Homo sapiens: one gene and its partner. The protein of the gene in region 1 purifies or fractionates together with the protein of each later gene. This does not show direct contact. Each region holds a gene or a part of one and is shown on either strand. Other genes may lie near its edges.

Region 1 (3,500 bases):
TGTTGACCCTGTAGACCTGTGAGAGGGTCTCAGGGACTCCAAGTCCACAGCCACACTTAGACAATCACTAGCTAATTCAAATCAAAGCATAATTATGTTTTCAAGGATTTTGATGTATACTGACAAATTTAAAAAAATTGTACTAGTCCTTTTACTAGCAGAGCGTGAGAGTCTCTGTCTCTGCAACTTTTCCAGTATTGAGAAGAGTCATTATTTAATCTTTAATATGTTCGATCAAGAATGACATCTTGTAGTTAGCATTTTAAAAATTATTATAGGTTGTACCTTTTTCCAAATTTTTTTGACCACTTAATTTTCCTTTGAATTACCTGTTTGGTATCCTTTGCCTAATTTTCTGTTGGCATGTCTGTTGTTATTGTTTATTGATTTATTACTTATTGATCTGCATATGTTCAGGATGCTGGTCCTATATATGTCATATTTGTTGCATAAATTTTCTCAGTTGTTTGATTTTAAATATTGTTCTGCTTTTGATATGGTTAACTTTTAAATGTATGCTTTTTTTTTCTGACATTTTTGCCTTTATACTTAGGAAGTTCTTTTCTGTCCTAATATATGAAAGAAAAAAATATTTCACCTAAATTTTCTTTTAGATTCTTTATGGCTTTGTTTTTTATTCTTAATTTTTAAATCTTTCTGGCTGAAATTTATTTTAGTAAATGCTGAGAGGTGAAGATGTAGCTTAATTTTTTCTCCAGCTTAATTTTTCCTCTTACTGTGACTTCTGGGGTAGCCTCACTTCTTCATGGCTTGTTTTGACTGAAGTTACAAAATTATGTTTTTTCAAGTCACTGTGTTTTACGTGGTCTCAGAATCCTTCACTTTAAAATGAAGGAGTAGGACTTTGTGATCTGTAATATCTTACAACTCCAAAATTCACCCTCATTCTATTTTCGTTTCTACAGTTTTACCATACAGTAAGTCATCATTTAATGTCTTCGGTAGGGCTTTGGAGACTGCAACTTTAAGTGAAACAATGTATAATGAGAGCAATTTTACCATATGCTAATTGTTATAAACAAGAATTAAGTTCCTATAGCATATTTCTGGTCATAATAACATCACCAAACTTCTAAATAAAGACCCAAGGCTGGGCACTGTGGCTCAAGCCTGTAATCCCGGCACTTTGGGAGGCTGAGGCGGGCAGATCACGAGGTCAGGAGATCGAGACCATCCTGGCTAACACAGTGAAACCCCGTCTCTACTAAAAATACAGAAAATTAGCTGGGCACGGTGGCGGGCGCCTGTAGTCCCAGCTACTCAGGAGACTGAGGCAGGAGAATGGCATGAACCTGGGAGGCAGAGCTTGCAGTGAGCTGAGATGGCGCCACTGCACTCCAGCCTGGGTGACAGAGCAACACTCCGTCTCAAAAAAACCATAAAAAATAAAATAAAGACCCAAAACACATCTAATATTAAACATTGAAATTAATGTGAGCCTAAACAAGTAAGATAATTATTTACCCAATTTTTGGTGAATCAGTGAGTGATGGTGGTCATAGTGGTGGTGGATTAAATCTAAGAGTATGTGTTTGCAAAGTGAAATTTGTGAGAAGCACCTCTTACCACCATGTATTCAAAAGCAAACAATAGCCTGTTCAACAGAGCGAGACCCTGTCTCTTCAAAAAAATTTAAAAATTAGCCAGGTGTGGTGGTACATGCTTGTAGTTCCAGCAACTCAGGATGCTAAGGTGAGAAGATTGCTTAAGCCTGGGAGTTTGAGGCTGCAGTGAGTTAGGAACGTGCCACTGCAGTCCAGCCTGAGCCACAACAGTTAGACTCTGTCTCTAAAAACAAAAAACAAAAAGCAAACAATAACAAATGTGGTGAGCTTGCTGAGCACTTGTGTACTGCATCTTTATTGTCATGCGTTTGTATGATTATCATAGATTTATGAATTTTTATTTTACAGTAATTTGTATTCATTCATTTATTCACTTATTCATTCATTTATTTACCAACCCGCTTATTCCAGTTTAGGATTCTGAGTGGCCTCTGGCAGCTCAGGCTGCAAGGTATGAAGCCATCCCAGCACGGGACACGCTCACACACACTCCCATACTCACTCACACTGGGGCTATTTAGACATGCCAGTTCTGCAGACACGTACATCATTGAGATGTGGAAGGAAACCAGAGTACTGGGAGAAAGTTCACGCAGACGTCAGGAGAACATGCAAACTCCACACAGACAGTGGCCCCAGCCAGGAAACAATTTTTAAAAATACTCATCAACTTTATAACAAAATAATGTTGAACAAAATAACGTTATTTGAAGACTTTCTGTAATGGGCCCTTTGGCACCTGAAACATAGGACATACTACATTTGAAGTACTTGCTGAGGACATATTTATTGATTGACATTTTTTAATCTTTCTTGTGGACATTCTTAGAAGCCCCTGGTCCAATCAGCTGTTACTTATAAGGTTATATTTTACATTATAATTTCCTGCCCAAACACTACATATATATTTGATTATTTGTTACTTTTGGGAGAGTTTTTGGGATAATTTTAAGCTTGCAGAAAAGTTGCAGAAATATTACAGAGAATTCTCATATACCCTTCACCCAGCTTCTCTTAATGTTAACATTACCATGGTACGATTGTCAAAATCAGTAAGTTAATTTTAATGCAATATCATTAATCTACAGACACATTTTTTGAACTTTGCTAGTTTTTTCACTGATGTCCCTTTTCTAGGATCACACGTTGGATTTAATTGTAATGTCTTAAGTCATTTCCAATCTGTGACAGTTTCTTACTATTTCTTTGTCTTTTATGATTTTGACACTTTTGAAGAGTACTGGTCAATTTTATAGAATGTCCTTTCCTTTGTGTTTGATGTTTATTTTCTCATGGTTAGATTGAGGGTAAACACTTTTGGCAAGAGTACCCTGGAAGTGATGGTGTGGCCTACTTAGTGCATTACATCAGGGTCTGTGACTTCATATGTCTTATTATTGGAGACGTTAACCTTATTCACTTGATTAAGGTGGTGTCTGCCTTGGTTTGTGCTCAGGAGCTGGTAGTTCTAATGTTACTTTTATTATTATTATTATTTTTAAATTCTGAAGCTCTTTAATAGCTTTATAATCAACAAATAAAACTAAAGGTGTTTTATAATAGGAAAATAATTTTGTGATATATGACAATGGCATTGCTTCATAAGGACAAGAAGAAAAATTGGAAGTGTACAGTAGAACTAGTATGTTTTACTATAGAGTCTTACATATGTATTACTTGAGAGTGGAAATATAACCATAACTTGCTAACCTGTACTGTGACTCACAAAACAGGCTCTACCTGACCAAACTACAATTACTGACTAAACCTGAACTCTTTTATCATGAGCTCATTCAGCCTTATGTGCTCAACCCATACTCATAAACTCTGTTCCAGAAACTGCCTAGTTGACAAAGTCTGACCAACATCTAGCAGGACCACCTCATGACTAGTTCCGGCTCCTAGAACCTTCGA
Region 2 (3,500 bases), on another chromosome or scaffold:
AAAAAAAAAAAAATGGTGAAAGCAACCCAACTGTTCATGACAGATGAATGGCTAAACAAAATGTAGTATATACATACAATGAAACATTTATTATTCAGCCTTAAAAAGGAAGGTAATCCTGACACATGTCACAAAAAAGAAGGCAATTCCGAAATATGCTACAACGTGGATGAACCTTGAAGACATTACAGTAAGTCGAATAAGCCAGTCATAAAAAGACAAATATTGTACGATTCCATGTATATAACGTACCTACAGTAGTCAAATTCATAGAAACAGAAAGTAGAATAGTGGCCACAGGGCTAGGGGAGGGAAGAATGGGAATTCCTGTTTAATGGATACAGAGTTTCAGTTTGAAAAGATGAAAAAAGTTCCGGAGATGGATGGTGGTGATGGCTGCATAACAATGTGGATGTATTTAATGGCACAAAATGGCACACTTAAAAAATGGTTAAAATGATAAATTGGGTCAGGCGCAGTGGCTCACGCCTGTAATCCCAGCACTTTGGGAGGCTGAGGCAGGCGGATGAGGAGGTCAGGAGATGGAGACCATCCTGGCTAACACAGTGAAACCCTGTCTCTGCTAAAAATACAAAAAAATTGGCTGGGCATGGTGGCACGCGCCTGTAGTCCCAGCTACTCGGGAGGCTGAGGCAGGAGAATTGCTTGAACCCAAGAGGTGGAGGTTGCAGTGAGCCGAGATCGCGCCATTGCACTCCAGCCTGGTGAGGGAGACTCCATCTCAAAAAAAAAAAAAAAAAAAAGATAAATTGTATGTTGCTTATATTTTATCACAATTTTTTTTAAAAAGCTAAAGAACAGAAAAACAAAAACCTGGTAGACAAATGGAGAAAAAATACGAACAGATAAATCACAAAAGAAGACGCAACTAGCTCTAAAACATATGAAAAAATGTTCAAATCATTCATAGAGATATGCATATTAAAACAAAACAACACTAGACACTATTTCTCACTGCAAAAATTAAAGCATGACAGCACACACTGTTGGCGAGGTTGTGGAGAAACAGGCGCTATTCTCATACACTGTTGGAAATTGGTACAACCCTTCTGGAGGGAAATTTGACTATATCTGAGAAAACTACATATGCATTTACCTTTCAACCCAGCAATTCCACTTCTAGAAACTACCCTGAATATGTACCTCCAACAATACAAAAATACATATGCACAGAATTATTCACCGTGCAGCACTGTTTGTAACTGCAAGATAATGGAAGCAGCTTAAATGGCCATAGATAGGAGAGTAGATGAATAAACTATTATAACGTACTATGGTACATACTATGGTACATTCATGTAATGAAGTACTATGCAGCTGTAAAAATTAATGAGGCAATGTTCATAGCAACATAATTCAAAATAATGCATAAGTAGAAACCCAAAATCCATCAACTGATAAATGGATAAACAAAAGGTGGTATATCCATAAAATGGAATATTATTCAGCCATAAAAATAATGAAACACTGACAACATGGATGAACCATGAAAACATTATCCTAAGTGGAAGAAGCCAGTAACAAAATACCACATATTGTATGATCCCATTTACATGAAATGTCCAAAACAGGCAAATTTATAAAGTCAGAAAGTGGATTTGTGGTTGCCTAGAGCTGGGGGAAGACAGGATGGGAAGTAACTGCTAATTGCTAATGGATCAGGGTTTCTTTTAAGGGTGATAAAAATGTTCTAAAATGTATTGCGATGATGCTTGCATAACTGTGTATGTACTAAAAACCACTCAATTGTATACTTAAATCGGTCAATTGTAAGGTATGTAAATTATATCTCAATAAAGATGTTTTTGCTTGTTTGTGTTTTCTTGAGACCGGGTCTCGCCCTGTCGCCCTGGCTGGAGTGCAGTGGCGCGATCTCGGCTCTCTGCAACCTCTGCCTCCCGGGTTCAAGCGATACTCCTGCCTCAGCTTCCCGGGTAGCTGGGACTACATGCATGCACCACCATGCCCAGCTAATTTTTTTTGTATTTTTAGTAGAAAGGGGTTTCACCATGTTGGTCAGGCTGGCCTCAAACTCCAGACCTCAAATGATCTGCCCACCTCAGCCTCCCAAAGTCTGGGATTACAGGCGTGAGCCACCATGCCTGGCCTCAATAAAGATGTTTTTAAAAATTAATGAGGGGCCGGGCGCAGTGGCTCATGCCTGTAATCCTAGCACTTTGGGAGGCTGAGGCGGGCGGATCACAAGGTCAGAAGATCGAGACCATCCTGGCTAACACGGTGAAACCCCGTCTCTACTAAAAATACAAAAAATTAGCCAGGCGCGGTGGTGGGCGCCTGTAGTCCCAGCTACTCGGGAGGCTCAGGCAGCAGAACGGCGTGAACCCGGGAGGCGGAGCTTGCAGTGAGCCGAGATAGCGCCAATGCACTCAGGCCTGGGCAAAAGAGCGAGACTCCGTCTCAAAAAAAAAAAAAGAATGAAGAAGATCTCTATGAACAGATATGGGGTGATTTTCAAGACACACTATTCTTTTTTTTTTTTTTTTTTTTTTTTGGAGATGGATTCTCACTCGGCCGGTCACCCAGGCTGGAGTGCAGTGGTGCAATCTCGGCTCACTGCAACATCTGCCTCCCAGGTTCAAGCGATTCTCCAGCCTCAGCCTTCCAAGTGGCTGGGATTACAGGTGCCCACCACCACACCCGGCTAATTTTTTTGTATTTTTAGTAGAGACGGGGTTTCACCATGTTGGCCAGGCTAGTCTTGAAATCCTGACCTCAGGCAATCTGCCCACCTCAGCCTCCTAAAGTGCTGGGATTACAGGCATGAGCCACCACGCCTGGCCTAAAACATACTATTAAGTGAAAAAAGCAAACACAATTATCTATATAGCATGTCACCTTCGTATAAGAAAGAAGAGGATGTGAAAAAATACACAACTAACTGTTCACTTGTGCGAAAGAAACACGAGATAATCCAGATACCAAAGTTAGCTATACAGGGTAGGTGGGAAAGCGGTGAAAAGAAGGGGTGAATGGGAACAGGGCAGTAGGCATAAGAAGGGAAAGACACTTCTCTGAGTATACCTTTGTGTGTAGCTCTGACTCTCAGAAATCAGTCATAATTCATACCGCAAAAACAACTAAAATCAGCTAGGATGCAGGGGGAACTCAAAATGAAATATAAACACTAACAATGAACCTAACTATTACAACTAACATAACCACTCTGAAAGGCATGAGGAAGAAAGGAACTAACCTAAGTAACTGTAGAAAATGGTATCTTGACTGGATAGGCTAAAGACAAAAAGAACTGATTCCAGAGTTGGGTCAGAGAAAACACAAGATGAGCCTGGAACACCTTGTGGTGTGCCATAAAGTAAGTGCTTGAAGGAAAAAAAAAAAAATGAGGGCCAGTTGATAGGCCACAGAAGCTAACCTGAAGGAGATCCTAACTAAATAGCCAATGCTGGAACAGTAAGCAACAAAATAATGATGATAATGAATTTTAACTCATAGAATAT

What was found.
Region 2: the proteins of CDIN1 (region 1) and CABIN1 purify together in Homo sapiens (affinity purification with mass spectrometry, with the first as the bait; one large-scale study listed by BioGRID). This does not show direct contact.

What each region holds. Positions count from the first base shown.
Region 1 is NC_000015.10:36,582,626-36,586,125, forward strand, and holds part of CDIN1 (CDAN1-interacting nuclease 1), read left to right. Parts: intron 1-3,500. UniProt on the Homo sapiens protein: Plays a role in erythroid cell differentiation.
Region 2 is NC_000022.11:24,014,304-24,017,803, reverse strand, and holds part of CABIN1 (calcineurin-binding protein cabin-1), read right to left. Parts: intron 1-3,500. UniProt on the Homo sapiens protein: May be required for replication-independent chromatin assembly. May serve as a negative regulator of T-cell receptor (TCR) signaling via inhibition of calcineurin. Inhibition of activated calcineurin is dependent on both PKC and calcium signals.